Regions from separate parts of the Homo sapiens genome. Here region 2 is linked to region 1. Evidence: fine-mapped expression QTL. A gene starts in region 1. The other region holds a variant in brackets. All regions are shown on one strand. Distances are between the middles of the regions. Region 1 holds the start of CIAO2A (cytosolic iron-sulfur assembly component 2A). Region 2 overlaps CSNK1G1 (casein kinase 1 gamma 1).

Region 1 (15,309 bases):
ATATATAGGGTTGCTATGAGGAATAACCTGTTATGCAATGTGTTTAAAACAGTACCTGACACATAAGTGTACAATAATAGTATAAAAATAATTACTATAAATAGTAAAAAATAATAGTATAAAATATTACTATTTTATACTATTTTATAATTTTCATTTTACAGCCAAGAAACCAAGGTAGGTGATTTAACATTACTTAGCTAACAAGTGGCAGAGGTAGAACCCAAACCTACACCTTCTGACCTCCAAACCCTAAGACCGTTCCCATTGGACCACAGCTGCCTTCAGCCATTCTTATCTGGAATAAGTCACCACAAATGATTATCAACTTGTTTCCCTGCCTTACCCTCTTGTTCCCTTGGAGTCTTCCTTGTCAATCACTTACCAAGGTAACATTGAGTAGGTGATACTCTTACTCAGGCACCTTTCCAGGCTAGGACTACCTGCTCTGGAGGAATATCTGTTAACACATCAGACAGACGAAGGCTTCTCTCAAGTTTTCCAGCTGTGTTGACTGAACAAAACTACTATGATACACTATTATACAATTCTCTAAAAAACCAATAGGCCGGGTGTGGCAGCTCACACTTGTAATCCCAGCACTTTGGGAGGCCGAGGTGGGCGGATCACTTGAGGCTAGGAGTTTGAGACTAGCCTGGGTAACATGGAGAAACCCCGTCTCTATTGAAAATACAAAAAATTAGTTGGGCATGGTGGCACGCGCCTATGATCCCAGCTACTTGGAGGCCGAGGCACGAGAATCGCTTGAACCCAGGAGGCAGAGGTTGCAGTAAGCCAAGACAGCACCACTGCTTTCCAACCTGGGCAACAGAGCAAGACTCTGTCTCAAAAAAAAATAAAATAAAATAAAATAAAAATAAAAAATAAAAAGCCAATGGTCTTAGCTGAAATGCATAACGAAAGGGCTAAGACAAAACTTTCTACAGGAAGTGTACAGATCTGAAATATCAACTATAATCTAATGTTAGCACCCTTACAGAACAGTTTTTATTTCATGCACTCTCCTGATATTTGTCCACGTACACATTTTTCTATAACTGCAATCATGATGCAATTTGAACTTATTCAAGCTTTTTCATGTTTTTTTTCTTTTTTAAGAGATTGCTGGTTTCAAACTCCTAGGCTCCAGTGATCCTCTCGCCTCGGCCTCCCAAAGTGTTACAATTACAGGTGTGGGCCACCACGTCTGGCGAATATTTTCTTCTATAAAATTAGTTCCTTAACTCCTGCGTCAAACAGTATAAACTTCCAGATAGGGATTTACCAATATATACCATGAGGCTTCAAAATACTTACATAATCTAACCCAATTATTCCACGTATAGGAATTTATCCTGATGCAATAATGAGATATATAAAAATATTTATATAAGGCCAGGCACGGAGGCTCACCCCTCTAATTCCAGCACTTTGGGAGGCCAAGGCAGGCGGATCACCTGAGGTTGGGAGTTAGAGACCAGCCTGACCAACATAGAGAAACCACATCTCTATTAAAAATACAAAATTAGCCAGGTGTGGTGGTGCATGTCTGTAATCCCAGCTGCTTGGGAGGCTGAGGCAGGAGAATCGCTTGAACCTGGGAGGTGGAGGTTGTGGTGAACCAAGATCATGCCATTGCACTCCAGCCTGGGCAACAAGAGTGAAACTCCGTCTCAAAAAATAAATAAATAAAAATATTTATATATAAAGTTGTTCGGTCAGGCGCGGTGGCTCACACCTGTAATCCCAGCACTTTGGTAGGCCAAAGAGGGCAGATCACTTGAGGTCACAAGTTCGAGACCAGCCTGGCCAACATGGTGAAACCCCGTCTCTACTAAAAATACAAAAATTAGCTGGGCTTGGTGGAGGATGCCTGTAATCCTAGCTACTCGGGAGGCTGAAGCGGAGAATCACTTGAACCTGGGAGGTGGAAGCTCCAGTGGCCACTACACTCCAGCCTGGCCAATAAAGTGAGACTCTGTCTCAAAAAATAAAATAAAATAAAATAAAATAAAATAAAATAAAATAAAGTTGCTCATCACAGTATTATTTATAATTGCAAAAGGCTAGAAGTAGTCCAAATGGTTACAAAACTTCTGATGTACCAATATGATTAGCATGTAACCTATAACTATATAATTAAAGAATATTTAATGATGGCCAGGTATGGTGGCTCATGCCTGTAATCCCAGCACTTGGGGAGGCTGAGGCATGAGCCCAGGAATTTGAGACCAGCCTGGGCAACATGGCAAAACTAGCCAGGCATAGTGGCACCTGCCTGAAGTTCTAACTTTTCAGGAGACTGAGGTGGGAGGATCACTTGAGCCCGGGAGGTGGAGGCTGCCTGCAGTGAGCCGAGATCGTGTCATTGCATTCCAGCCTGGGTGACAGAGTGAGACCCTGTCTCAACAACAAAAAAAATTTAAAAAAAGAAATATTTAATGAGAAAAATAATTCATGTATTTCATGCTATTACTTAACTCTTACGACTCTATAGATATCCTTATTATTCCTGTTTTACAGATAAGGAAACTGGGTCTTGGAAAGGTTAAGTAACTTGCCGAAGCCCACAATACGGTACAGCCAATAGACCTGGAATTTTAGCCCAGAGCATATATTCTTTTTTTTTTTTGAGACGGAGTCTCGCACTGTAGCCTGGGCTGGAGTGCAGTGGCGTGACCTTCGCTCACTGCAACCTCCGCCTCCCGGGTTCAAGCGATTCTCCTGCCTCAGCCTCCCACGTAGCTGGGATTACAGGCGCCCGCCACCACGCCCAGCTAATTTTTTGCATTTTTGGTAGAGACAGGGTTTCACTACGTTGGCCAGGCTGGTCTCAAACTCCTGACCTCATGATCTGCCCGCCTCGGCCTCCCAAAGTGCTGGGATTACAAGAGTGAGCCACTGCACCCAGTGACATTCTTTCATAATAGCTGGTTTTTTTCTTTATGTTTTTGTGGGGTATCAAAATTACTGCCAATAAACATGTTACTCATATAATTTAAATAAATGTTAATTTTAAAAATGAATTTGCTGGCTGGGAGTGGTGGCTCACACCTGTAATCCCAGCACTTTGGGAGGCCGAGGTGGGCAGATCACCTGATATTGGAAGTTCGAGACCAGCCTGGCCAACATAGTGAAACCCCATCTCTACTAAAAATACAAAAAAAATTAGCCAGGCATGGTGGCGGGCGCCTGTAATTGCAGCTACTTGGGAGGCTGAGGCAAGAGAATCGCTTGAACCTGGCAGGCGGAGGTTGCAGTAAGCCAAGATTGCACCATTGCGCTCCAGCCTGGGTGACAAGAGTTAAACTCCAGCTCAAAAAATAAATAAATAAATAAATTTGCTATAGGTTCTTGAACTCTCCATTTAAGAACTCTTTCTTATATGTCAAAATATTTTAAGACACCCCCTCCACAACACCCACAGCAGTACTTTCAGTATCTGTTCGTTCACAAATTGTCCAATGACCAAAAATAACCATGCATTCAGCATTCAGTAATGCTTTTTCTAGCAATGGGATTTTTTTTTTTTTTTTTGAGACAGAGTCTTACTCTGTTGCTTAGGCTGGAGTGCAGTGGCGCAATCTCAGCTCACTGCAACCTCCACCTCCCATGTTCAAGCGATTCTCCTGCCTCAGCCTCCCGAGTAGCCGGGATTACAGGTGCGTGCCACCATGCCCAGCTAATTTTTGTATTTTTAGTAGAGATGGGGTTTCACCATGTTGGCCAGGCTGGTCTTGAACTTCTGACCTCAAGTGATCCACTGCCTTGGCCTCCCAAAGTGCTGGGATTACAGGTGTGAGCCGCCATGCCAATGGGAATTTTTTTTTTTTGAGATGAAGTTTTTGCTCTTGTTGCCCAGGTTGGTGTGCAATGGCATGATCTCAGCTCACTGCAACCTCTGCCTCCCAGGTTCAAGTAATTCTCCTGCCTCAGCCTCTCAAGTAGCTGGGATTACAGGTGTGTGCCACCATGCCTTGCTAATTTTGCTTTTTTTTTTTTTTTTTTTTTTGGGAGATAAGAGTCTCGCTCTGATGCCCAGGCTGGAGTGCAGTGGTGCAATCTCGGCTCACTGCAAACTCCGCTTCCCGGGTTCACGCCATTCTCCTGCCTCAGCCTCCTGAGTAGCTGGGACTACAGGCACCCGTCACCATGCCTGGCTAATTTTTTATAGTTTTAGTAGAGACAGGGTTTCACCATGTTACCCAGGATGGTCTCCATCTCCTGACCTCGTGATCTGCCCGCCTCGGCCACCTAAAGTGCTGGGATTACAGGCGTAAGCCACCGCGCCCGGCCTAATTTTGTATTTTTTTTAGTGGAGATGGGGTTTCACCATGTTGGTCAGGCTTGTCTCAAACTCCTGACCTCAAGTGATCTACCCACCTTGGCCTCCCAAAGTGCTGGGATTACAGGTGTGAGCCACCACGCCCGGTCACCAATGGGATTTTAATAACCACAATAATACCTATGGATTCACAGACCTCCAGTCCCTCAAGATGTGGCCTATATGGTGGAAACCACCAGCAGAGGGAACCCAGGTCAACCAGTGAGAAAAGACAGAAATCACAATAGTGGAAATAATAACGAAATAGCGACCTTTTCAATCTTTTTTATAAACTTGTTGCTTTTTAATAGGTGAGATAGTCCCATGGTTTGAAAATGTAAAAACATAAAAAGGTATAAAGTCTCCCTCCCACCCTTTCCCCCATCTGCCCAGCTCCCACCACCACTATTACCCGCTAACACCCTTATAGCTATTCATTTATGTATTAATATTATTCAGGCATATGCAATCAAATACAAATGTATGTTTTTGCTTTTTTTACACAAATGATAGCAAAATGATACTTGCTTTTATTTCTTAACAGTATGTCATAGAGATCTCTCCATATCAGTACATGCAGAGCTTCTTCATTCTTTTTTATAGCTGCATAGTATTCCACTGTTTATATTCACCATCAATGATTATTTAATCAATCCCCTACTCATGAACATTTGGTTTGAAATAAAATCCCTTTATAACAAAGCATATGTTCAAATACATTTATTGTACCTGCTAACAAATCCAAAATACTGGGAATCCAACCTCCTACCAGGACTTCTACCCATACTATGTAGAAACCAGAAGAGTCACTGAAAGGAGATGGTGATGGAAGCAATGCTAGTCTGACACCACCCACTCCAACCTCCAGAACTGAGGAAAAGCACTGGCCCACATGCACTCTCCATTAATTGTGGGCATATATACCTGGGAGGGGCAGCCTGACATAACTAAAGGAGAAGTGGAGTCAGGAGACCTGGGTATGAGCCTTAGTTTCACCATTTCCTGGCTACCTGATTCTGTGCAAGTCACTTAAACTCTCTGAGCTTCAGGTTCCTCATCTGCAAAATGAAGATAATAATATTTTAACTCAACAAGCTAATTGTGAGGACTACAGAAGATGAATACACGAACATACTCTGTAAACCATAAAGTGTAATACATACACTGTATGGTTTTTCAACAATGATGCAAATTGTTATTATGGGTCAATATCAGCAAGAATAACTTAGAATTTATATAAATATACATGTATGTACAGAAAAACTTACCAATAAGAGTCGCCAAAGAGCAATGAGGTACTGTTGGCGTGAACCTGATAATAACCAGATATTCTTCTTCATTTATCTCCTGAACTTCCACACAACTTTCCGAGACCACTTCCAGTTCTTCTAAAGTATTGGGCTTTTCTGGGTCCCGGATAGTTCTAATCAAATCTAAAGAATCATCAGAGATAAGATATTCTATTAAAACATGACTATTCTAAATAAAGATGATTTTGCCAGGCCTAATTTAAGCACTGACTTCTCTTACGTTTAAGCAAATAGTACAGCAACTCCCAGGTTTCTGACAGAAATTTTCACTACTGGTTTCCTCTTGAGAAAACTGTTTTCTTGGATTATTATAAGACCATATCCAGTTTCTCCAATCGGACATTGCAGAGAAAATATAATAAGAATGGAAACAGTGTCATGGAAGCTCAAGAGGAAGAAATAACTTTCAGCTTGAAAGAATGTGGTTATCAGGCTTTATAGGAGCGGAATCTGAATCAAGCCTTGAAAAATAGGTAACATTTCAATATTTGACATTTAAAGTGAAGGAAAGTAGCTGGGCATGGTGGCTCACACCTGTAAACCAACCACTTTGAGAGGCAAAGGCGGGAGGATCACTTGAGCTCAGAAGTTCGAGACCAGCCTCAGCAACATAATGAGACCCCCGTCTCTACAAAAAATACACACAAAAATTAGCCGGGTGTAGTGGTGCAGGCCTGTGGTCCCAGCCACTCAGGAGGATCGCTTGAGCCCAGGAGGCAGAGGTTGAGAGCGGAGATCGTGTCACCGCACTCTAGGCTGGGCAACAAAGCGAGACCCTGTCTCAAAAAAAAAAAAAAAGTGAAGGAAAGTAAAGTAAAGAAGAAGAACCCTAGTTTGCCTGGAAGCAGGCATAAGTGAAAGGTGTTTTAGAGTATGAGATTTGGGTCTGACCATCAAGTGTCTTTTACAGCCAGCTACCGGCAATAGCAAGTCCTCAAGAGGTTTGAGACAAGTGACATGGACAACACTGTGCTGTCAGCTGGTAACTCATCATCAGCTGCTAGACTCAGACTAAAAAGCAGAACCAATGATACCAGCTAAAAACACCAGGCCTAAAATAGTATCTAGGACAACACTGGCAGAACTAAAAGAAACAGAACGAGGAAGAAATTTGGGTGGGGCATAGAGCAAATGAGTTCAATTTCACACAGAATGATTTTGAGGTGCTTAAGGGGTTATCCAATGGAGTTTTCTAGCAAGTGGTAAACTGTAGCATAGAGTTTAAAACAGCATCAAAGCTAGAGTGGTTGTCAAACCCACAGGATTCACAAAGAATAAGTAGAACCTTGGCTGAACATTGGAATTACCAAGAATGTTTCAAAACAAACAACAAGGCCGGGCGCGTGGTTCAGGCCTATAATCCTAGCACTTTGGGAGGCTGAGGCGGGTGGATCGCCTGAGGTCAAGAGTTCGAGACCAGCCTGGTGAACATGGTAAAACCTCGTCTCTACTAAAAATACAAAAATTACCCAGGCGTGGTGCCGGGCGCCTGTAATCCCAGCTACTTAGGAGACTGAGGCAGGAGAATCACTTGAAACCAGAAGGCAGAGGTTGCAGTGAGCCGAGATCCCGCCATTGCATTCCAACCTGGGCAACAGAGCAAAAACTCCGTCTCAAAAACAAAAACAAACAAACAAAAAAACCTGATGCCTGGGCCCCAATTCCAGAGACTCTGATTTAATTGGTTTGCTGGCCTTTGAGTTTTAAAAATTTCTCGGGTTGTTCTTAGGTACAACCCAGTATGAGAATCAGTGGTATAAAGAAAAAAGAGACCCAACAGATCCATGCGAAGCACCTAACTTAGGGATCAGAATGAGAAACAAAAGCAAAAAGAACTAGAGGAGGGAAGAGAGGGATGGTTAATAACATTAAATGCTGCAGAAAAATTCAGGCTCATGAGAGCTAAAACAGGTCTTTCATTTGTCACCCCAGCCAGCTGTAAGAAAGCAGTTTCAGTAGAGAGTGCGTGCGCTGAAGCCAGCTTGCAAAAGGGGAAGCAAGTAGGAACTGAAAATGTCTTCCTAGGGCCTTAGCTGGGAAGGGAGGGACATGAAAAGGACAATGACTTTATAAGGAAGCTAGAACAATGACAAGGATAAGGGCAACTTTGAGGAGAGAAATTGAAAATATAAGTTGGGAGGAGCGGAGACTGGTAAAATAAGCAGAAGGGAGTGGGATCAAATATTTAGAAGTCTCAGTTGGCCTTGGAGAAGACAAGATTTCTTTCTTACTCTGAGGCTGGAGAAAGAGATGAAGGAAAGGAGAACAATAAAGAGAAATGGTGAGGTAGAAAGGAAAGAAGCAGAATTTTACATAGAATGTGCTTGAGGTTCTCAAATCTGAAGTTTTGTTTTATTATTTATCACACAAAATTATATGTAATCAGAAATGCAACTGGGAAAAACAAGAACAAATTCTATTTTCTCTTTAATTTGCTCCTGGGCTTGTCACTTGATTAGAAACAGAATTTTGCCAAACATGACGGCTCATGCCTGTAATCCCAGCACTTTGGGAGGCTGAGGCAAGTGGATCACCCACCTGAGTTCAGGAGTTCAAGACCAGCCTGGCCAACATGGCAAAAACCCGTCTCTACTAAAAATACAAAAATGAGCCGGGTGTGGTGGCATGTGCCTGTAATCACAGCTACTCAGGAGGCTGAGGTAGGAGAATCACTTGAACCCAGGAGGCTGAGGCTGCAGTGGGCCAAAATTGTGTCACTGCACTCTAGCCTGGGTGACAGAAGAGACTCTGTCTCAAAAAAAAAAAAAAAAGAAAGAAAGAAGCAGAATTGGAAAACATAGGCAAGAAAGTCGACAAAGCTTCTCTTTCACAGAGCTGTGTTATCATGGGACTTAGGGAAACAGAGTTTTCTGAAAAGGAATTTTCTGCCTCTCATACTAGGCTTTCTCCCCATAAGGCTCATTTAATTGTATTATATTCTTTATATGCCACTAAACCCTGAAATTAAATATCATCCTTATTAAATTTCTCTAGTTTTCTAGTTTCTAGATTTGAGAGGTTTGGCTTTACTTCTTTAAAAAGAAAGAAGGGCCGGGTGTGGTGGCTCATGCCTGTAATCCCAGCCTTTGGGAGGCCGAGACAGGCAAATCACTTGAGCTCAGGAGTCCAAGACCAGCCTGGGTAACATAGCAAAACCTCATCTCTACAAAAAAATACAAAAATTAGCTGGGCATGGTGGTGCATGCCTATGGTCCCAGTCAGTCAGGAGGCTGAGGTGGGAGGATGGCTTGAGCCCTGGAGGTGGATGGAGGCTGCAGTGAGCAGTGATTGCACCACTGCACTCCAGCCTGATTACCAGAGTGAGACCCTGTCTCAAAAAAAAAAAAAAAAAAAAAAAAATTTAAAAGAAAGTTCTCCTCATATTACTCCCCACACTAACATTCTTCCACAGCACTGCACTATTAAAATTCTTCATTTATATTTAAAACCTTCAGTATCCAACTGCATCCCACTACCTAGAACAATGTTCAACCACATCTTCACATTTAACCACAAACCCTATCCTATAGCCCCATCTATCTGTCATTTCCTATCTTCTTACCTCCATGCTTTTAAGTTTCCTCTTAGTATGCCCTCTGACCCTCTACATATCTAGATCCTAATTATTCTTTGAGGCCCAACTCAAGTGGCTCCTTCTCTTTATTTCAAAGTCTTTCTAGATCCCCTCAGTCAGAGACTAGTATCTCCCTTTCTCTGAATTTCTGTATCTCTTATTCAGTCTACAGCCTTCTATTACATACTCTATTTTTGCATATATGGGTTTCCTTCAATATCAGTTTGAAGACTAGAGTCACTCTCTTCCAAAGTTGTATCTCCAGTGCCCTACCATCCCTAGATTATGTGGACAGAGATCTGGCAGGACAGGGATGTGGTCTGCTTTGTGGAGATCATTTTACTCACAATTATCATCTGCCTGGAGGCTGATTAGGTAAGTCCTGCCTCTAGTAAGAGAGGTCAACCAAATTAGCTCCCAGAGTATTTCCTAACCCTGGCTTCCTTCTACTGGCCTATAATCCTTACTTGAATTATATTTGTATTCTATGGTTAGATCTCTCAATATTATATCCAGTCTTTTCGGTTTTCAAAAACAATACAACATAATTAAAAAAACAAACAAACAAAAAGTTGTAAGGCAATTGTGAAGTGGTGGAAAGTGCATTACGGTTAGAACCAGTAGGCACAGCCTTTGCTTTTTGGCTCTGTTCCTTACTGGCAGTGTGACCTCCAGGTAGTTCTTTAACCTTTGTTTCCTCATTTGTACAATAAAGATGGCCCCAAGGGTTAAACAGAAAATATTTAATATGCAACATGGAAGAGTGTGTATGTGTGTGTGTGCGTTATGTGTGTGTACACAAGGCCTTGCTACAAGAAGCCAATCTCGTTCTCTTCTTTCGGGGACCTCTGCTTACTGACTTTGCCGGATAGAGTGGCTGTGACCTTGGGCCAGTCCCCAACTCGACTGTCACCCACAAGCGCCCTCAGCGGTAGCAAGAGTGCGTGTCCAGGAGCTAGAGAACGAGGCTCTAGTAGTGCAATCAGGCCAGCTTTGCTTCCTAACCAGGCACCCTAGACTTGTGGTCTCCCCACAAGTCTTGGAATGGTTACTAAGACGTAGGCCACACGTGGAGAATGAAGCTTTTAAGACCTCTGGGTTCGGCTTGCCCCAGGTTTACGAAGAGCCCAGTTCCCAGAAAGACCCACACCCCCCACGTGACTTAGGACCCCGAAGAAAGCGCCTGCTACGCCCCGGACAAGATCTGGCCAAAAACAAACAAACAAACAAACAAAAAAAAAGGTCTCCCCTCCCAGCCCTCAGGTGAGGCCATCATCCCCGCACCCCTCAGCTCCGGCCTGCACCTATAACGCCAAATGCTGTGCTGGGTAAAATTAATTACCATAAACTTCTAGCGCTTTCTCTTCCATGATCCGGGGCTGCCGGGCAGCTCCCGGCTCAGAGAGGCCGGAGAGCCACAGGACTCTGCTCAGCGTCCAGGAGAGCAGCCCGGACACCCGCTGCATCTTCACGCTCAGCCATCCCTGGCGACTGTCCCAATCGCGCCACCGTCTCTCAGCAGCCTCGGGATTGATCAACTTCCTGGTCTTCAAATGGGCCGAGACAAGCCTAAAGGTTCAGGAGAGCAGAGAAAAGGCGGGGCCAGACGGAGTAGCTCGAAGGACCTAGGGAAGGGGCCTCAAGGACTACAAGTTCCAGCGTGCTTTGCTCGATTTCGGCGGGACAAAAACAATCTTCGCGGCTCGTCAGCACATTGCATGCTGGGATGCGTGAGCTATTTTCTTCGGAAGGCAGCGAATTGTATTCTGGGACTTGTAGTGTCCGCCTGGTAGAAGTGGATGTAACGGTCTGTTAACCGCGACTGACTCACTCAGTATCCGTGATAAGTTAAAGATGAATCCTGAAGGGGTAGGGGAAAGGAGATCTTGAGTTCTCCAGCACGGAGACTCTTTACAATTATTTCTCCGCGGGATCCGCTGACAGCCAACGTCTTTCTTACTTCCTGATCGGACAGGAAGTAGGTTTCAGTTGCTGTGAAAAGGGATGTCATGGGAAGCCAGTGAGGTAGTCAGGTATGGCATGGGGAGGGCTTTTTGGCTTTCTCGTCTCCTAAGGGACTCAGTCCAGCACAGCTTCCCACCTTTGAACGAATATTTCTGCTAATGGCCTCCAAAGACAACTTAGAACATAAGTTTTCCCGTGTCTAATGTGTACAGTGGTGACATAATGGAGATCGCCATCCTTAAAAGTGTATCTTGGCCGGGCGCGATGGCTCACGCCTATAATCCCAGCACTTTGGGAGGCCGAGGCGGGCGGATCACCTGAGGTCAGGAGTTCGAGACCAGCCTGGCCAACATGGGCAAACCCCGTCTCTACTAAAAAATACAAAAATTAGCTGGGCGTGGTGGCAGGGGCCTTAATCCCAGCTACTTGGGAGGCAGAGGCAGGAGAATCGTTTGAACTCAGGAGGCAGAGGTTGCAGTGAACCAAGATCGAGCCATTGCACTCAAGCCTGGGGGAGAAGAGCGAGACTTCCCTCAAAAAAAAAAAAAAAAAAAAAAGTGTATCTTAAGCCCTCTGGTGTTCGTGGGTGTGATGGATGCCAGTAACAAAATCGATTTTATTTTATCCATCCATCCCTCCGATCAAATTTGTAGGTACTAATTTGCCATAGGTGATCCATAGGCATGGAAGATACAAAGATAAAACGCTGCCCCCGCCTTCAAACAGCTCACATGACCTGTGAGGGAGTCCATCCCTGAATTTGCAGTTACAACCAAACTAACTAAACCTCTTGTCAAAGTTGGTGACAAATGCCATTTCTATTGAGAAGATAGGATTATCTTGCAGAATTGTCCCATGCTAACATGCCCATTTATCTTTAAACTCCAGTCTTGTTTGTCTAGTTAATGTAGGCCTTAGGATCACCAGACAATGAATTGCTTAGGTCCCAAGGAAATTTTGGTCAGGGTTCAATAATTTCCCTGCCGTCTATTCCACTCCACTTACTCCACAGCAATTGAGAGGATAATCCTAACATTTTTCCAGCCAAATCTAGGACACTGAGGCCTCACTTCATCTGTGAGGCCTCCCTACTTCTCCAAGCAGAATTGATTATCTCTTTCCCTGTGCTCCCACAGGGCACCATAGCATTGAACATGTCGAACTGTCGATTAAATACCTGATTTCTGTATCTGAAACTCACAGCAAGGTGCCAGGCATACAGTAGATGCTCAGTATCTGTATTTCTTAATGAATTAACTGAATGTTGCTCAAGGAATAAGTGGTGAAGCTTTCTTCTAGTCTTGTTCAGATACCTCAATCGAAATATTTATTGACTCTCTGTGAGGGCATTGTGCTTGGCATGGGTAGATGGCATGTAGAGGTTTTCAAACATTTTAGTGACACTCCTTCATTCAGACGAACTCTTAGAAGCCTGTTGGATAAAGCTATCCAGAGCACAAAGGGCCCTAGAAACCTGAGCAGCCCCTAACTCCTACTTTTCTGCCCCTTTGGCCCCACTCGTTAATATCTCAGCATCGCGAACCAGGCCTCGGATTTGCTGCGCAGCCTCAGCTGGCCGGGTGCCGCCCCGCCCCCAGCGCCTAAGCCCCGCCCCTAGGTCTCCGCCCCTCGGATCCCACGGGGTCCCTTGCGGCCCTCCCACTCCTCGCACCGTTGGATCGCTTTGCTCACGGCGCTATCTCTCGATAAAGTTGTTGTTGCGGCTTCCGCCGCGGGTGGAAGAAGATGGCGTCGGGTGGTGGTGGCTGTAGCGCTTCGGAGAGACTGCCTCCGCCCTTCCCCGGCCTGGAGCCGGAGTCCGAGGGGGCGGCCGGGGGATCAGAACCCGAGGCTGGGGACAGCGACACCGAGGGGGAGGACATTTTCACCGGCGCCGCGGTGGTCGTGAGTTTGCACCCCTCGGGGTAGCAGGCGGGAGGGCACCCCGAAAGGGAAGAGAGGCTAAGCGAGAATCGGGGAGGTTGGGCAGAGTGGGCCCGGTGAGACCTTGCCTCGGTGTCAGCAGTCCGGGCCCCGGGGACCCTGGATGTGCTCGAAGCGGTAGAGCTTGGCTTCCCGGCCCCCAGGCGGGAAGAGTAAAGAATGAGGGTTGTGGTGCCTTCGTCGGCTAGCTCCCTAACAGCCGAGAACCGCCGACGCCGTCCTTTGACCCTGCAGTGTGGTGACACTCCACGGATCCACGGGGTTATTTTGCAGGTCGTGTCCTGCCAAGGCAGATTCAGTAGGACGGAATAAGCGAATGGGATGCAGACCTTTCCCCCGTCTTACTGCTTCTAAGATGAATAGCGTTATGTGGACTAGCCTGGGGTGGTGACCCGCCCACCAGTTCTTTCTTTAGCCCAGCATTTACCGATAATAACCAAAGGCCCTTTCTGGATCTTAGTTTACAAAAGTTATGTTGATTCTTCTGATCTCTAGGAAAATCAGGCCAGAGGCTGGTGGACAGAAGGCACTGCCAGATAAATCACTACATAGATCAGAAAGCTTTCTCCTTTTTAAAGGGATGTGTTCAAGTGCCCACGTACCTCACTGGGAGCAAATCTGAAATGTGATGAGGAAATGGTGTTTCCCGTAATGTTACCGGTAGGAGGCCCTTGAGTGTAGGTTGTCGAGGTTCTTGGCATTTTGAACAAATAATTGGACAAAACGCACAAAATAACAAAGGAATGAAACACAAACGAAGCAGCGAAAGCAGGAATTTATTAAAGCGAGAAAGCACCCCACAGGGTGTGAGTGGGCCGGAGCAAGGGGCTCAAGAGCCCACTTACAAAGTTTTCTGGATTTTAAGTGCTCCTTTTATGGTTCCTATGGGTTACCCCTTATCTGGATGAAGGATTTGGTCTGTGGCTAAAGGCCGAGGTGAATTGGCGTCCTGTGCAGATGAACGGATGGTCCCTGCTTGGCCTGCGGCCAGTCTAAGGCACTCTCCCTTTCCATGTGAGACGTGGTGGATGGGGAGGGTTGCAGGGATAGTAGCCTTTGATCCTTTGCCACTCGGGCGTGGGCAGATGGGTTTTTTCCTTTTGGTTTAGCTTTAGGAAGTTGGCCTTAATTGGCCTTAGGTTCCCTGCCCCCAAACCCAGGGGGTTCCTTTTGGGAATTCAGCTTTGGGAAGTCAGCACGAATTGGCCTTAGATTCCTTGCCCCCAGACCTTGGTGTTTTCTCTTTTAGAAAGTTAACGTAAGTTGACCTCAGATTCCCTGCCCCCAAACCTTGGTGTTTTTCCTTGATTCAGCATGAATTGCCCTTAAGTTCCCTGCCTCCAGACCCTATTCTCCTGCCTCAGTAATAAATATCCGGGTCTCTAATAAGAGTTAGGTATTAGAAAAAAATAATCTTTGTAATGTGGAAATCAGTAATCAGTTATGGAACCAGTAGAGATGTTTTGGGCTATTTTATGAGAATATTTACTCATACCACTTGGTATAGGTTGTTCCAGGCTGTAAAATTCAATGCTGGGTCTGTGAATTTATCTGTTTGGCATAATGCTTCTCTTCACAGTAGCTACTCAGTGTGTAACCAACTAAATAAAACAGCTATAAATTCTTTATGCAACATGTGGTCTGAAAAAGTTTGAGGCTTTCCTCATTTGTGTCAGATTTTCCCTGTCCTGTATTCAGAAATTGAGTCCATAATCTCAGCTCATAAGGTGCTTGATAATTCTAATATAACAACTAAAACTGTCAAATGAAGTCTCTTATTCTGAGAAATAATAAGTCTTTGTGACTGTCATAAAACAGGAAACAATTTTTGTTTGTTTTTAGAGACATAGTCTCCCTGTGTTGCCCAGGCTTGTCTTGAACTTCTGGGCTCAATGGATCCTCCCTTCCTCCTAAGTAGCTGGGATTGCAGGTGCATGCCTGAGAAATAATAATTCTTGCCGCTAATTTAGTCCTTCTGTATGTTATTTTAAGTAAGTATTTAGTCTGTTCCTTTAGTAATTCTTCTATAAGTCATGGAAGACAGCTACTGTTGGTAACTGCTGGAATGATGTGCAGACTGAGAATATGAAAACAGAAACTCTGACACTGAAAGTGATTGGTCACATAGGCAAATGTTGATTTATTTTCCAAAAAGGAACCTGGAAGAGTGAGGAGTTATTTTCTAGAGTTAA
Region 2 (15,866 bases), 200 kb after region 1:
CTCCTGCCTCAGCCTCCTGAGTAACTGGGATTACAGAAGCGCACCAACACACCCAGCTAATTTTTGTATTTTAGTAGAGATGGGGTTTCACCATGTTGGCCAGGCTGGTCTCAAACTCCTGACCTCAAGTGATCCACACACCTCTGCCCTCAGCCTCCTGAGTAGCTGGGATTACAGAAGCACACCAACGCACCCAGCTAATTTTTGTATTTTAGTAGAGACGGGGTTTCACCATGTTGGCCAGGCTGGTCTCAAACTCCTGACCTCAAGTGATCCACCCACCTCTGCTTCCCAAAGTGCTGGGATTACAGCCATGAGCCACTGCACCTAGCCAACTTTTAACTTTCTTGATGGTGTTCTTTGTCACACAAAAGTTTTAAATTTTTATGAAATCCAATTTATCTGTTTTTTTCTTCTACTGTTTATGCTTTTGGTATCATAACTAAGAATCCACTGGCAAATATGAGGGCAGTAAGATTCATCCTTATGTTTGTTTTTTTTAAGACTTTTATAGTTTTGACTCTTACATTTAGTCCTTTGATCTACTTTGGGTTAATTTTTTATTTGTGGTATGAGGTAAGCGTCCAACTTGAATCTTTTGATTGTGGCTATCCAGTTGTCCCAATACCACTTGTCAAAATAATTATTGTTTCCCCATTGTATGGTCTTGACACACCTGTCAAGTGCAATTGACTAGAGATTCATGGGTAGGTGTCAAATCTATTTTACCAGTCTATATGTCTATCCTGATGGGAGCACCACACTGTCTGCTTTGTAGTAAATTTTGAAATCCAAAGTATGAGTCATCCAACTTTGTTCTTCTTTTTTCAAGATTGTTTTGGCTCTTCTGGGTTTCTTGAAATTCCGTATGAATTTTAGAATCAGCTTTCAGTTTCCACAAAGAAGCCAGCTGAGATTCTGATAAGGACTGTGTTGAATCTGTACTTCAACTTGGGGAGTGCTGCCATCTTAACAATATTAAATCTTGAGATCCATGAATGTGGAATGTCTTACCATGTAGTTAGATCTTAAATTCCCTATGACAATACTTTATAGTTTTCAGAGTATAAATTTTGTACTCATTTTATTAAATTTATTCCTAAGTATTTTATTCTTGATGCTAATGTAAGTGAAATTTTTAATTTTTTTAATTTTTGATTTAAATATATATACTTTTGTGTAATACTGATTCAGACCTCTTCTCTCATGATCTATCCCCAGAAACATATTATGTCTTTTAATGAGAATAATATTAGTATCTCTTAAATGTCTACTAGGGAACTATTTTGGCTAAGATATTTTTAATTTTTATTATTATTTTGATTTGTTTCCTAGTCCTCAGCCTTGTTCCAGACAGCTGGAGCTTATTAACACAAGTGATATCATATGAAAGTTTTACTAAGACACAGCTAAAAATTTCAGCAAATATAATTTATAATTCTAATTCATATTACTGTTAACTTATACTGTATACAAATTTTGTGAAAAATTCCACATTTAGCCTTGACTCCTCAATACAAATATTTTAGAGTAGAATAAAACTATTGAAAAATATAGTTGTATCATCAATGTATAAATTTTCTGTGCAATCTATACAAAATAAAATTTATCCAGAAGCTACAGAGGAAGATACATTTCTTATAATAACCTCTATTTTCATGAAAATGTTTATTGTTATTTATTATTATAATAAAATCTAGATTTAACTGGAAGCCCAATTTTATGGTTAACAGTTCTAGTACTCCACTTGAAGAAATAGAATGTAGCCATTAAAATTATAATCATGAAAACCACATAGCAATGTAGTTAATAAAAAAGCCGAATCCCAAAGTATATCCAACATTTATATCAAGGTACACACATACCTGAACAAAGTCTTTGTTCTAATTTTTGTGATGACATTGCAATATTGCCTACCAAAAAAAATTGCCCAAACCAACAAAACAAAAAAGCTCCATAAATTAGAATTATCCTAAACCTGTCTATAGTCTAGATGTTCAAATCCAAAAAAACTGTTTATCATTTAGGTTAATCTATTTGCTGAAGTACTTTATAAAATAAAGAAGACTAACAAGTATAAAAAGTAGCATTACAACCCTCAAAAAGGACCCTACTCTGCTGAGATACTGTTAACATGTTAACTTCTAGTTTCACAGTACAAACAAACATTAATCCAAACTACCTGGAATAGTCCTTTAATCAAAAAACATTTAGAATTACTTAAATCACAAAGCATTTACTGTTTCAGCTTTTTGCCCTGATAAACTGGAAAAAAATCCTACTATTCTTTAGCTATGAACACCTCTGGATAAAAACAGATTGCTCCATGTTTTCTAAAAGCACAGAAAAACTACATTTTGGAGGAAAGGGGAGTGAGATCACTCTAGTTAATTTATCTTCTCCAAGAAGGGGAAAAAAAAAAAACGATGACTTGTAATTCCTCCTTTTTTCATGGCCTACACAATAAAGTCCAAAATCTCTATCATGATCAAGAACAGGCTTTGCTCACATCTCCGGCCTCACTTCCTAATACCAATTCCACTGAACGACCCCTGTGGATCTTAAGTCACCCATGCTTTCCAGCAGTGCTGAGGTTCTTTACATTTTCTTGTGTTTCACACCTCCATGCCTTTTGTATGGTGCGGCTTCCTCTTTTGAGAATGTTCTTTCACGTTCTCACCCCCGGACCCCAGCCCTTTCTCCTTACTGCCCAGCTCGAGCCTTAAAGGTTCAACTCAGAGTGTCTTATTTGTGCAGGTTTTCTGCCATTTGCCAATTCCAGCAGAGATATCACTCTTTCTAAGCTACATTGGAAGACTAACAAGTATAAAAAGTAGCATTACAACCCTCAAAAAGGACCCCACTCTGCTGATATTGTTAACATGTTATTGTTAACAATATTGTTAACATGTTATTGTTAACAATATTGTTAACAATATATTGTTAACTCATATTGTTAACATGTTAACTTCTAGTTTCACAGTACAAACATTAACCCAAACTACCTGGAATAGTCCTTTAATCAAAAAACACTTAGAATTATAAATATATATAAGCTAATTATCTTATATATTTCTTCTATTATTTTACTTACTGCATTGCAGTATAGTTACTAATTTCTAAGTATGAATCCCCAAATAATGATCTTGGCAAAAGCAGGGTCCATGTCTTATTTATGATCTTTGTACCCCCAGGGCCTAGCTAAATGCCTGCCAAAAAACCAGATGCTCAATACAATTTGTTAAATGAATAAATGGCTAGGTAATTATGGAAATCTACCCCTAGCCTTTTATTTGAAAGAGGCATAGTGTTTATAACATCCTCCACTTTGATTCTGCTCTAAATTTACTTTGCAATAGTATAATATTAAACTTCACAATAATTAATTTACCAATGTTTTTCCTCCTCACCCCCTGGAAAATCTCTGACGATTAATGTTGGGGATGATCCACCATAAAAACTAGATGGTGTCACTTAAAAGATCATTAGTTATCATTTTATACTTTATTTATATTTCTTTTTCTGGTAACATGTAATTATATTAAATGCTAATGACTATCATCTTTGTATTATAATTAGACATTTATTCTGATGTCTTTTGTAACTATTTTTTTCTGGCTTGTGGTATTTCAACTATACATTTAACCAGTAACCGGTAAGACTACATGGCATATAATAGAAATAGCTACTTGTGATGTCTTGGATCTGGGCTGTAGTTCCAATTCTGTGACAAGCTGGTTGTTCTCCCTAGACCAAGTCACTTAATTTTTAATTTCTCTCATCTTTAAAACGATGACAGTTGAACTAGACAATGCTAAAGTTCCTTATAAGTCTAAAACTTAACTACTTTTGTTGATCTGGACTTCACATATTAAGTTACTCAAAGTTACCATAAACTTTTGGGAAGCCTGGGACCATTCTTGTCTCATTCTAAACTTACAGTCATCTTTTTCATATTAATTTTTGCTAATCTAGTTGTCAAATCTAAAATTGTACAGTAGAACTGGTTTGTGAACCATGGTTAGGACTTTTGTTCAACTCTTTGCTTATTTAATATAATGCTGAATCTTGATTCTGTTAACCAGCAATACATATTAGCTGCCCCACCCAAAGCACTGTGTTGTGTACAGCTTTCATCAGTATGTTCTTCAAAGGTTTGATCCAATTCACTGTTGAAGTGGATAGGACCAAAATACAGAATTCTACTGTTTAGCATCAATGAGGGCAATGATCCATTAACTCATTCTCTTTTATGAAGATGGTTAAAGGAATGACAAATCTACTTAATTATCTTTTCAGTCACCGCACATTTCTATATGTTACCAGAATACACAAAAGTATGTCAAATAAATGCCCTGCTGAAATAAAAATGTATAACATAGACATCTAGTTTAACATGGCAGAAAAAAATTGAGACATTTAGCTCTATTTATTTCCAAAACCCCACTGAAAGGACAAAGGAAACAAGAAAGGACAAAGAGAACAGGTGAGGAAACAGTAGACTAGAGATGTCAACATTTTGGAAGATGAGAATTGAATAAACAAATGGTAAATGACTTAGCAAAACTAAGCCATCCAGCAGAAAAGGAATCTAAACACAGAATTACCTAATATCATGACAAATTTTTTAATTGTTGGACTTGAGGAAAAAAAATTAATGAAAGGTATATTGATAACTAAGAATTTTTTTTAAAAATCAAGTATCAGCAATTTTTAATTCTGAGGGAAGGAATGATGGAGTCATACTAAAAAGGAAATACAGTAACAGTGCTCTCATAGATTGGTTGTAAACAATACTTCCACAGCCATAAAGCTGTAAATGTAAAAAAATTATTGAACCAAAAAATATGACATAAGTATATTGGGAGAATATGGGCAAGGTATGTACGTCATTAGGGATGGCATCTGTGAGACAATCAATAACAACATCTAATATTGAAAAAATTAAGAAATAATATTTAGAAATAAGGAGGTATCTAGACGACATGGATAAAATAATTGAACCACTTGCCTATAGGATTCAGAACTTTAGAATCTATGTAACCTAGTTATTGGAATTAAAGATAAATTATAAAAAATATTACATGATACTTTATAAAGTTATATATATATATGTGTGTATGTGTGTGTGTGTTTGTGTGCATGTGTATATATATATATTTCCTCTTGTCCTAGTAACCCCAACATAGAAAAAAAAAATTGAATCAATCCAGCATCACCTGCTCTTTGAAAGCCCACAACAGCTGGCAGTAAGCTCCACTTTCTTTGACAAAAGCTTTGCCGCCTTCTGGAAAAGTAGGCCATAAGTTCAGACAGTTTTTTCCTTAGGATGCATGATGACATCATGTAAATACTGCTTCTGAATCACCCTCATAAACACATCTTTCTATAAACTTCTGTTGCCCATAACCATCCTACTTTCATAGTCCTCCTCAAAAATTGTGGCCAGACATGGTGGCTCATGCCTGTAATCCCAGGACTTTGGGAAGCCAAGGTGGGCAGATCACCTGATCTCAGGAGTTTGAGACCAGCCTGACCAACATGGCGAAACCCCATCTCCACTAAAAATACAAAAATTAGCCGGCCGTGGTGGTGCACGCCTGTAACCCCAGCCACTCCAGAGGCTGAGGCAAGGCACGAGAATCACTTGAACCCAGGAGATGAAGGCTGCAGCGAGCCGAGATTGCAACACTGCACTCCAGCCTGGGCGAACAAGTGAGACTCTGTATCAAAAAAAAAAAAAAAAAATTCCGGAATTGTTTGGCAAGCCTGGAAATTTTACCATTACATTCTTCTGGTTAACCATTCAAGATGTCAATGCATAATCTTGCAAGTATTGTATCTGTGACACTTCTAAAATTACCATATTAATGCAATGCAGACTGTGTGTCACCTAATGTGGTTAGAACTCTTCATTTCTACTTTATTTTGATGGATTATGCTATTGACAGAAATAATTCTTCTCCAAGATCTGTTAAAACTGCTTAACCTTAACAAATTGTGCTTAAGTTAAACTAGGGTGTAATTCCAAAAGAAATTTAAACTACGATACTACTACAAACAAGAATCTCATATACATTTGATATTCTTCCAAGAAAATTAAAATGCACAACAAAAACAAAATAGACAAATGGGACTTAATTAAACTAAAAAGCATCTGCACAGCAAAAGAAATAAGAGAGTGAACAGACAACCTGCTGAATGGGAGAAAATATTTGCAAACTGCATCTAACAGGAAACTAATATCCAATTACAAGGATATTATAGTATTTACAATACTAATTGTAAGAATTTACAAGGAACTTAAACAAACAATAACAAAAAACCGTATAACCTCATCTAAAAGTGAGCAAAGGACATGAACATTTTTCAAATGAAGACATACAAATGACTTCATTTGAATGACATTTGAATGACATACAAATGACCAAGAAGCATATGAAAAAACGCTCAAAAGAACTAATCAGCAGAGAGATGCAAATTAAAACCACAATAAGATATAATTTTATACCAGTCAGAATGGCTATTATTATTATTTTTTGTTTTGTTGGTTTTTCCAATAAGCCTTTTACACTCCTAAGAATGGCTATTATTAAAAAGTCAAAAAATAAAAGATGTTGGCATGGGTGCAGAGAAGAGAGAACACTTATACACTGTTGGCGGGAATGTAAATGAGTGCACCCTTTATGAAAAACAGTATGGAAGTTTCCCAAAAAACTAAAACCACCATTTGATCCTGCAATCTCACTAATGGGTACCTACCCAAAGGAAAAGAAATCATTACATCAAAAAGACACCTGCATATGTTATGTTTATCGCCAAAAATACGGAAACAAGTGTCCCTCATGGATGATTTTATATATATATATACACATACACATACACACACACATTTTACACACACACACACACACAGGCAGACAGGCAATGAACTACTATTCCGCCCTTAAAAAAATAATAAAATTTCACGTTTTTTGCAGCAACATGGATGGAACTGCAGGCCATTAACTTAAGTGAAACAACTCAGAAACAGAAAATCAAAAAATGCATGCTTTCACTTATAAGTGGGAGCTAAATAATGTGTACACATGGACACAGAGTGTGGAATAATAGACACTGAAGACTTAAAAGGGTGGGAAAGAGGTGAGAAATGAGAAATTATTTAATGGATACAATGCATATTATTCAGGTGATAGTTACACAAAAAAACCCAGACTTCACCATTAGGGAATATATCCACATAACAACAAAAAAATTAGAATGCATTTTATCTAAAGTTATAATTTAATTTAATTTAATTCAATTAATTTATTTTTTTTGAGACAGAGTCTCGTTCTTGTCACCCAGACTAGAGTGCAATGGCACGATCTCAGCTCACCTCAGCCTCCCGAGTAGCTGGGATTACAGGCGCCCACAACCATGCCTGGCTAATTTTTGTATTTTCAGTAGAGACGGGGTTTCACCACGTTGGCCAGGCTGGTCTCCAACTCCTGACCTCAGATGATCTGTCTGCTTTGGCCTCCCAAAGTGCTGAGATTACAGGCGTGAGCCACCATGCCCAGCCAAGACTCCTATTTTTAATCACTTAAGCAGAAGAATGACATGACTTCTAAAACTTGTTTTAGTTTGTTCCATCCACAGAACCTAAAAATTTGTAAATTTATAAGAAAACTTTAACAAGGTTACAAATATATATCAATGTTTCTGGTTAATTAGGTGTTTGGCTGATACACTTTCATTTGTTTAAAATACCATGATTTTCTAAGAAACTATTAACTTAAAAGCAAAAATTTGATTTTAAAATGGCTTCATTTTGAACTAGAGAAGAAATACCTTTAAATTATGTTACATTTTGGTCTGGGTGCAGTGGCTCACGCCTGTAATCCCAGCACTTTGGGAGGCTGAAGCGGGCAGATCACTTGAAGTCAGGAGTTTGAGACCAGCCTGGCCAACATGGTGAAACCCCATCTTTACTAAAAATACAAAAAATTAGCTGGGTGTGGTGGTGGGCACCTGTAATCCCAGCTACTCAGAAGCCTGAGGCAGGAGAATTGCTTGAATCCAGGAGGTGGAGGTTGCGGTGAGCTAAGATCATGCCATTGCACTCCAGCCTGGGCAACAAGAGTGAAACTCCATCTCAAAAATAAAATAAAATAAAATTATGTTTCATCTTAAGCCTGCATTCTCTCAGATGATTTTCAAAAATGTTTAAAGCAGCAGAATCATACCTTTCAAACAAAATCTTATTGAAAACTCAAATGTATAAAATGTATAAAACAGATAACATGGAGAGTTCTGCCTGCTCACTTTTCTTTTCTCATTGACTTGGAGTGGAAAATAATGGATCTAAGACTGTGGGATATAATATGAAATGAACTGCTTTAGATAGTATTCATCTGTAAATTGTTAATAATTACAACTGCCAAAAAAAGAAAAGCTAGTAGCAGAAGTTAAAAGTTCCAATAAAAGCAGGGCGCAGTGGCTCACGCCTGTAATCCCAGCACTTTGGGAGGCCGAGGCAGGTGGATCACAAGGTCAGGAGATCGAGGCCATCCTGGCTAACATGGTGAAACCTCGTCTCTACTAAAAATACACATATTAAAAAAAAAAATTAGTCAGGCGTGGTGGCAGGCGCCTGTAGTCCCAGCTAGTCGGGAGGCTTAGGCAGGAGAATGGTGTGAACCTGGGAGGCGGAGCTTGCAGTCAGCCAAGATCGAGCCACTGCACTCCAGCCTGGGCGACAGAGCGAGACTCCGTCACAAAAAAAAAAAAAAAAAGTTCCAATTTAAGTTCACAAGTGACAGTTCAGTAATTCAGACAAGGAAAGAACAATATGCAGAGCCTGTCATATAAATCCTACATCAATCACAGAAATAAGTGTCTTACTTTAGAAGCCATGCAGGAGTGTCACAGAACAAGCTGCTACCCTTAGCCAATTTATTTACCTTTGTCAGAAGTATCCTGTGTTAATGCATTTTTGCATATTTCATCAGACACCAAAGATGGAAAAGATCAAAAAGGTTAATTTGTTGTGCCTCCATTTTGTTGTATGCAAGTAAAAACATCCTCTCACTCTATCCTACTTCAAAAGGATAATATGAATATTATTAAAATCATACGCCTGTCTCTCTAGTCTAACAGGTCTCCCATAAACATACGTGCACCCCTATGTGGATGTGAAAGAAATATCACCAGCCAGGTGCAGTGGCCCATGCCTGTAATCCTAGCACTTTGGGAGGCCGAGGTGGCTGGATCACTAGCTTAGGAGATAGAGACCATCCTGGCCAACTTGGTGAAACCTGTCTCTATTAAAAAAATACAAAAAATAATTAGCCGGGCATGGTGGCGGGCACCTGTAATCCCAGCTACTCAGGAGGCTGAGGCAGGAGAACTGCTTGAACCTGGGAGGCAGAGGTTGCAGTGAGCCAATATCGCGCCACTGCACTCCAGCCTGGTGATAGAGCGAGACTCCATCTCATAAATAAATAAATAAATAAATATCATCTATCTACTTATTCTTGCAACTAAGAAAAACATCAGCAATTATTTGTACATTGAGGATGTATATTTTCTTAACTCTAGAGGAAAATAATTTTATTTTAATGTTTACATGATTCTTTCCAGGCCTGATTCAGCAGAAGGCTCAAAACTTTAAAAATGAGAAAGTTCTCACAAGATTCCCCATGATTTTCAGTTAGTATCAATCTATAAAATCTGTTTTCATCCCATCATGTCCTCCTACCTACACAATCACTATCCATCAATTTTCCCTTCTGTCTTAAATCTTCATAATTCTCCTTTCATTGAGGCAGTACACAAAAGACTCCACAGAAATAATCTTTCCATTGAAAATGAGCAAAGGCCACATAGAAATACTCTTTAAAAAAATAAGCAAATATGTGTAAGTATGTTTAACTTCACCTATGAACACATACACATTTAAGTAATACCATTTTCCCCTATCAGACTGTCATAGATGAAAAGATTCTTGATATTGTTTAAGATTTCTGAAGCACTGGAGGAAATAAGCACAAGGACACACATACACACAAAGTGAAACATCTTTTTGGAGGGCAAACTGACAATGTGTAA[C/T]AAAATTGCAAACGTACATATCCTTTGACACAAAAAGTACGCTTCCAGGATGTAGTCTAAGAAATTAAACCAACTTTAAATACAAGGAGATCGAGTAGACCAGTGCCAGTCCGTGGCCCTGTTAGGAACCAGGCTGCATGGCAGGAGGTGAGCAGTGGGTAAGCAAGCATTACCACCTGAGTGCCACCTGAAAGATCAGTGGCAGCATTAGATTCTCACAGGAGTGCAAACCCTATTACTGTGCATGTGAGGGATCTAGCCTACATCTAATACTTGATGATCTAGGGTGGAACAGTTTCATCCTGAAACCATCCTCCACCCCTGGTACATGGAAAAATTGTCTTCCATGAAATGGGTCCCTGGTGCCAAAAAAGTTGGGGACTGCAGGAGTACTGTATTAATTATAGTATTAAAATACAAAATAATTTTTGTGTATATTGATAATGGCTAAATTGAATACTATAGAAATATTTAAAATTGATGAGATATATTTAAGTTGAAACAAGATGTTCATGCTCTATTAAGCAATAAAAAGAGGCTTCTTTTTTTGAGACGGAGTCTCACTCTGTCTCCCAGGCTGGAGTGCAGTGGTGCAGTCTCAGCTCACTGCAACCTCCATCTCCCAGGTTCAACTGGTTCTCCTGTCTCAGCCTTCCGAGTAGCTGGGATTACAGGCGTCCGTCACCAAGCCCGGCTAATTCTTTGTATTTTTAGTAGAGATGGGGTTTCACCATGTTGGCCAGGCTGGTCTCAAACTCCTGATCTCAGGTGATCCGCCCACCTCGGCCTCTCAAAGGGCTGGGATTACAGGCATGAGGCACCACGCCCAGCCATAAGAGGAAGCTTAGAGCACAATTTGATTGCATTTCTAAAATATGTCCTAATACACATTTTTGAGCTGTAGAAAATTAAACCATCATTACTGGTTATCTCCACAGACACCTCTAAAGTAGAATTAAAAAAAAATTTTAAGCAATAAGTGTATTTTCTTTTTAAAAAAATTTGCTTTAATGAAATTGTTTTGCTTTGATTACTACTTTTTGCTGATTACAAAATACACATGGCTCATTTTAAAAAGATAGGGAAGGGCCAGGAGTGGTGGCTCATACCTGTAATCCCAGCACTTTGGGAGGCCAAGGCAGGCAGATCACCTGAGGTCAGGAGTTCAAGACCAGCCTGGCCAACATGGTGAAACCCCGTCTCTACAAAAAATACAAAAAATTAGCTGGGCGTTGTGGCAGGTGCCTGTAATCCCAGCTACTTGGGAGACTGAGGCAGGAGAATCGCTTGAACTCAGGAGGCGGAGGTTGCAGTGAGCCAAGATCGTGCCATTGCACTCCAGCCTGGACAACAAGAGTGAAACTTCGTCTCAAAAAAAAAAAAAAAAAAAAAAAGAGGGTCGGGGGGTGGCCAGGCGCGGTGGCTCATGCCTATAATCCCAGCACTTTGGGAGGCCGAGGTGGGTAGATCACAAGGTCAGGAGATCAAGACCATCCTGGCTAACATGGTGAAACCCCATCTCTAGTTTGGTGTGATTTCTTAATCCCTATCTCAAGCCTAACTTTCTAAGTCTCAGATATGCATTTCTGCATATGTGTCACCCAGTCCTCAAATATTCACAAACTCTATCTTACCTGCCTTCCCAACCACTCTCCCTAGTCCTATATTTACTATCTCAATTAACTCATTTATGCCTAGTGTTCCATTATTGGAACGCTAGGCTGGTGGGAGTTATTTATATACACTGCTCGAGGTCATCACCAAGGTCTGATTTTTCACAAAAAAATTTGCAGCTTCCGGCATAAATGGGTTTACATCTTCCTCATTTATAAGGTCTCTTCAAGCTGGCACATTTAGTCATCTTTGACTTCTTCCCATCAAATAATTAGTGACTAAATCCTGCCTAAAGTCTATGTCTAAAATTTCTAATTTACCCTGTCCTCTCTCCATCTCACTTCCATTTTCAGAGCTAAGACCAAAGGCCCTGCTACTTCTGACCTGGACAATTCAGCCTTTCTTGAGTACCCATTACATACCACACACAGTGAAAGGAATTAGAATATGAGGACTAAAAAGCAAAGTAATACCCTTACACCTATCTTGGGAGAGAGAAATGGAAGAATAAAGTACAACATGATAAGTATTACAATTAGAGCAAAATCTACAAGATGTCAACTTCTTTCCTATTTGATCTAATCTTACAATACAACCCGAATTCTCTTTCTGGAATATAAACTAGATTATGTCACTCTGTTGTAAAACTCCTGATGATTCGACCCCATTGCCTACAGGATAAAGTCCAAATGCTTTAATATATGCAAACACTTCACAATTTCGTCCCAACTTACCTAAAAGCTTCATTCTATTACTTTTCTTTCACTTCACATCCTATGACCCAGTCATGTATAACTAAATGCTGCTGTGATATGCTGGGCACTTGCACAGTATCTAGTGATTGTGTATCCTGCACAAGCTCTTCTTCCTTATGTCTACCAGCAGAAATCCTGTCCTATCATCAAATCATACCTCCTCTTTGAAGCCTTTATTAACCTTCTCTGCCAATGTAGTTTCCATACAATCTGGTTTTTTGTTTGTTTGAGACACGGTCTCACTCTGTCGCCCAGGCTGGAGTGCAGTGATGTGATCTTGGCTCATGGTAGCATCAGGCTCCCAGGCTCAAGCCATCCTCCCATCTCAGCCTCCCAAGTAGCTAGGACTACAGGTGCATACCACCACACCCAGCTAATTTTTGTATTTTTTGTAGAGACGAGGTTTTGCCACGTTGCTCATGTTGGTATTGAAATCCTAAGCTCAAGTCATCTGCCTGCCTTGGCCTCCCAAAGTGCTGGGATTACAGGCATAAGCCACTACACCCAGCCCCCAATCTGCTATATTATCACTTTGTATTGCAATTTGTTTTTCTCTGTCTACCACTAGACTGTGGTATTTGTAGAGACAAAAACTATATCTTCTTATTTCTATCCTTCCCAGAGTCTAGTATCAGTAAATATTCAAGAAATAGTTGTTAAATGTATGATGAAGGCTGGGTGCAGTGGCTCACGCCTGTAATCCTAGCACTTTGGGAGGCTGACGTGGGCAGATCACCTGAGGTCAGGAGTTCGAGACCAGCCTGGCCAACATGGTGAAACCCTGCCTCAACTAAAAATAAAAAATTAGCCGGGCATGGAGGCACACGCCTGTAATCCCAGCTACTTGGGAGGCTGAGACAGGAGAATCACTTGAACCCGGGAGGCAGAGGTTGCAGTGAGCCGAGATTGTGCCACTGCACTCTAGCCTGGGCAAAAAGAGCAAAACTCCATCTAAAAGAAAAAAAAAAAAGAAAACTGTATAATGGGGTGGAAACATTTGCAGAGAACCAAAATGCACTATCGTTACTTTTTTTTTTTTTTTTTTTTTTTTGCTGTTTGGAACCGATAGGTCTACTATCTACCACCACCCCCACATAAACCTGGAGCCCAAAGAAAGTATGCTTTATTTTCCCCCCTCTTCCTATTCATCAGCTTTTTATCCTTCCATCTCATAAATAACAGTAAACAATACAGAAAGAATCCCTGCCCTTTAAAGGGCTTATATTCAAGTAAGGAGAGGCAATTAATAGGGAAACATACATATGGTCATTTCAGATAGTGATGAATGCAATGAATAAAATAAAGCAGTTTGACGAGACAGGATGTGCTAGAGAAGAAACGTGCTATTTTAAATGAGAATGAGGAACAAGTGATAGAATGTTTCTCTGAGAAGGTAAGACATAAGCTGAGGCCTAAAGGATGAGAAACAACCCACTACGCAAAATTTTAGGGAAATAATTCTGCAAGCAGAAGGAATTGCAAGTGTAAAGGCTCTGAAGCAGAAATGCACACGGTTGGTCAGGTGTGGCGGCTCACATCTGTAATCCCAACACTTTGGAAGGCCAAGGCAGGAGAATCGCTTGAGGCCAGGAGTTCAAGACCAGCCTGCAAAACATCATCTCTACAAAACATTTAAAAATAAAAAAATTAGCTGGGCGTGTTCTTATGCACTAGCTATTAAGGAGGCTGAAGTAGGAGGATCGCTTGAGCCTGGGAGTTGGAGGCTGCGTGAGCTATGATCATGCCACTGCACTCCAGGGCGGGTAACAGAGCAAGACCCTGTCTCTCAAAAAAAAAAAAAGAATAAGAAGAAATGCACTTGGCTGTTTGACAGACTGTGTGTCTAGGAAAGGAAATTAGTTTAGAGAAGCAGAGCTTTGTAGGTGGTAGCCATGATGTAGGCTGACTGCACCTGCCTTGACTTTGGAATTTTGTAGTTTACAATCTTCTCCTCGCTAATATTAGAACAAGAAAATGACGGAATGGGGTATGCAGCCCACTCTATTGTCAGGAAGATGCCAGATAATTCTGAAAGTATCTTTTCTAGATACAAGGCCATAACAGTATGGTCCCAGGGCTAATGAAAACTTGATAAGCAGAGAAGAGTAAAAGCACATGAAAAGAAAGACAAGTTCTTCTGACTACAGGCAAGTCCAAATGAGAAACATCAAAATTATCTCAGATTCAAAGAGGAAACAAAACACAATACTACTCTGAAAATATATATGGGCTATAAATGTATGCTTTTAACTGAATGAATTTTTCCCTTCCCACGTAAACTTATAATACAAATCTAGACTTCAGTGATTAAACAGATTTCCACTTTTAATTCACCAAGGTTTTTCTTCACTTTCACAGAAATGAAACAATTGTCTGATGTTTTGAGAATTCAAAGATTTAGATGCTTTAGAAACTGCCTCTTAGCAATCATTTTATGGATGTTTATGTCATAATTATTTAATCCATCCAAGTAGTACTGTGATGTTACAGTCAATTTATGACATAAAGAAATATTCACAGAACTATTCGTTAAAGCAACTCTGTGATTGCTAGAAAGTAAAGCAGTAATTACACATCTTACTCGTATTGTAAGTAGCATCTGCTGGCTTTGGTAACCCGAACACAATTCTAAATATAAAGATCCTTTCATTATCCTAATTAAGTCCTGAATTTCCAGGTTGTCAGCCTTCTAACAGTAAAAATAAATCCATTCTCATCATTCTTAAATTCAAATGGTCTCTGGCTAGTATAGTGATGTTTCTCCAAGGCTCTCTATGGGGGATCAGAGATAAGATTTTGTCCATGTTCTCTATGCAGGACCATCACAAGTAGCAGAGGTGGTCAGGCGTAGTGGCTCAGCCTGTAATCCCAGCACTTTGGGAGGCCGAGGCGGGTGGATCACTTGAGGCCAGGAGGTCAAGACCAGCCTGGCCAATATGGCAAGAGCCCGTCTCCACAAAAATACAAAAAAAAAAAAAATAAGCTGGGCATGGTGGCACATGCCTGTAAGTCCCAGCTACTCTGGAGGATGAGGCACAAGAATCACTTGAACCTGGGAAGAGGAGGTTGCAGTGAGCTGAGATCGCACCACTGCACTCCAGCCTGGGTGACAGAGCAACACTCCATCTCAAAAAGAAAAAGAAGTAGCAGAGGTAACAAACATAATTACATTATGTTCCCACCCTCCCACCACTCCCCCCAAAGGGCCAAAGTTTCTTACAATGAGTCTTCACATTAATCCACAGTCTCAAGAGCTATGAAGGAAAAGAAAACACTTTAGCCTAAAAGATGACCTTTCCACATTCTCCAGGCTAATTTCCAACTTCATATATTTATACGGCCTTTTATTTTCTCTATCCCACTCATCAAGGGAGAGCCATTAAAAAGTATATAAATGGCCGGGCG

Evidence for each region.
Region 2: its variant is fine-mapped to the expression of CIAO2A in whole blood (TOPMed, PIP above 0.99).

The regions. Positions count from the first base shown.
Region 1 is chr15:64,083,095-64,098,403 of GRCh38, forward strand. It overlaps CIAO2A (cytosolic iron-sulfur assembly component 2A), which reads right to left and starts at 10,744. Exons shown (of 5, transcript NM_032231.7): 1 at 10,551-10,744; 2 at 5,593-5,757. The coding sequence starts at 10,674. It overlaps SNX1 (sorting nexin 1), which reads left to right and starts at 12,888. Exons shown (of 15, transcript NM_003099.5): 1 at 12,888-13,078. The coding sequence starts at 12,920. RefSeq lists enhancers at 9,819-10,381, 10,017-10,066, 10,427-11,156, 12,872-12,991, 13,132-13,211 and 2 more.
Region 2 is chr15:64,283,450-64,299,315 of GRCh38, forward strand. All of the region lies in intron 2 of CSNK1G1 (casein kinase 1 gamma 1), which reads right to left. Among named protein-coding and RNA genes, the nearest start is that of CSNK1G1, 65 kb to the right of the region's middle. The variant C/T (reference allele first, on the strand shown) is at 10,093.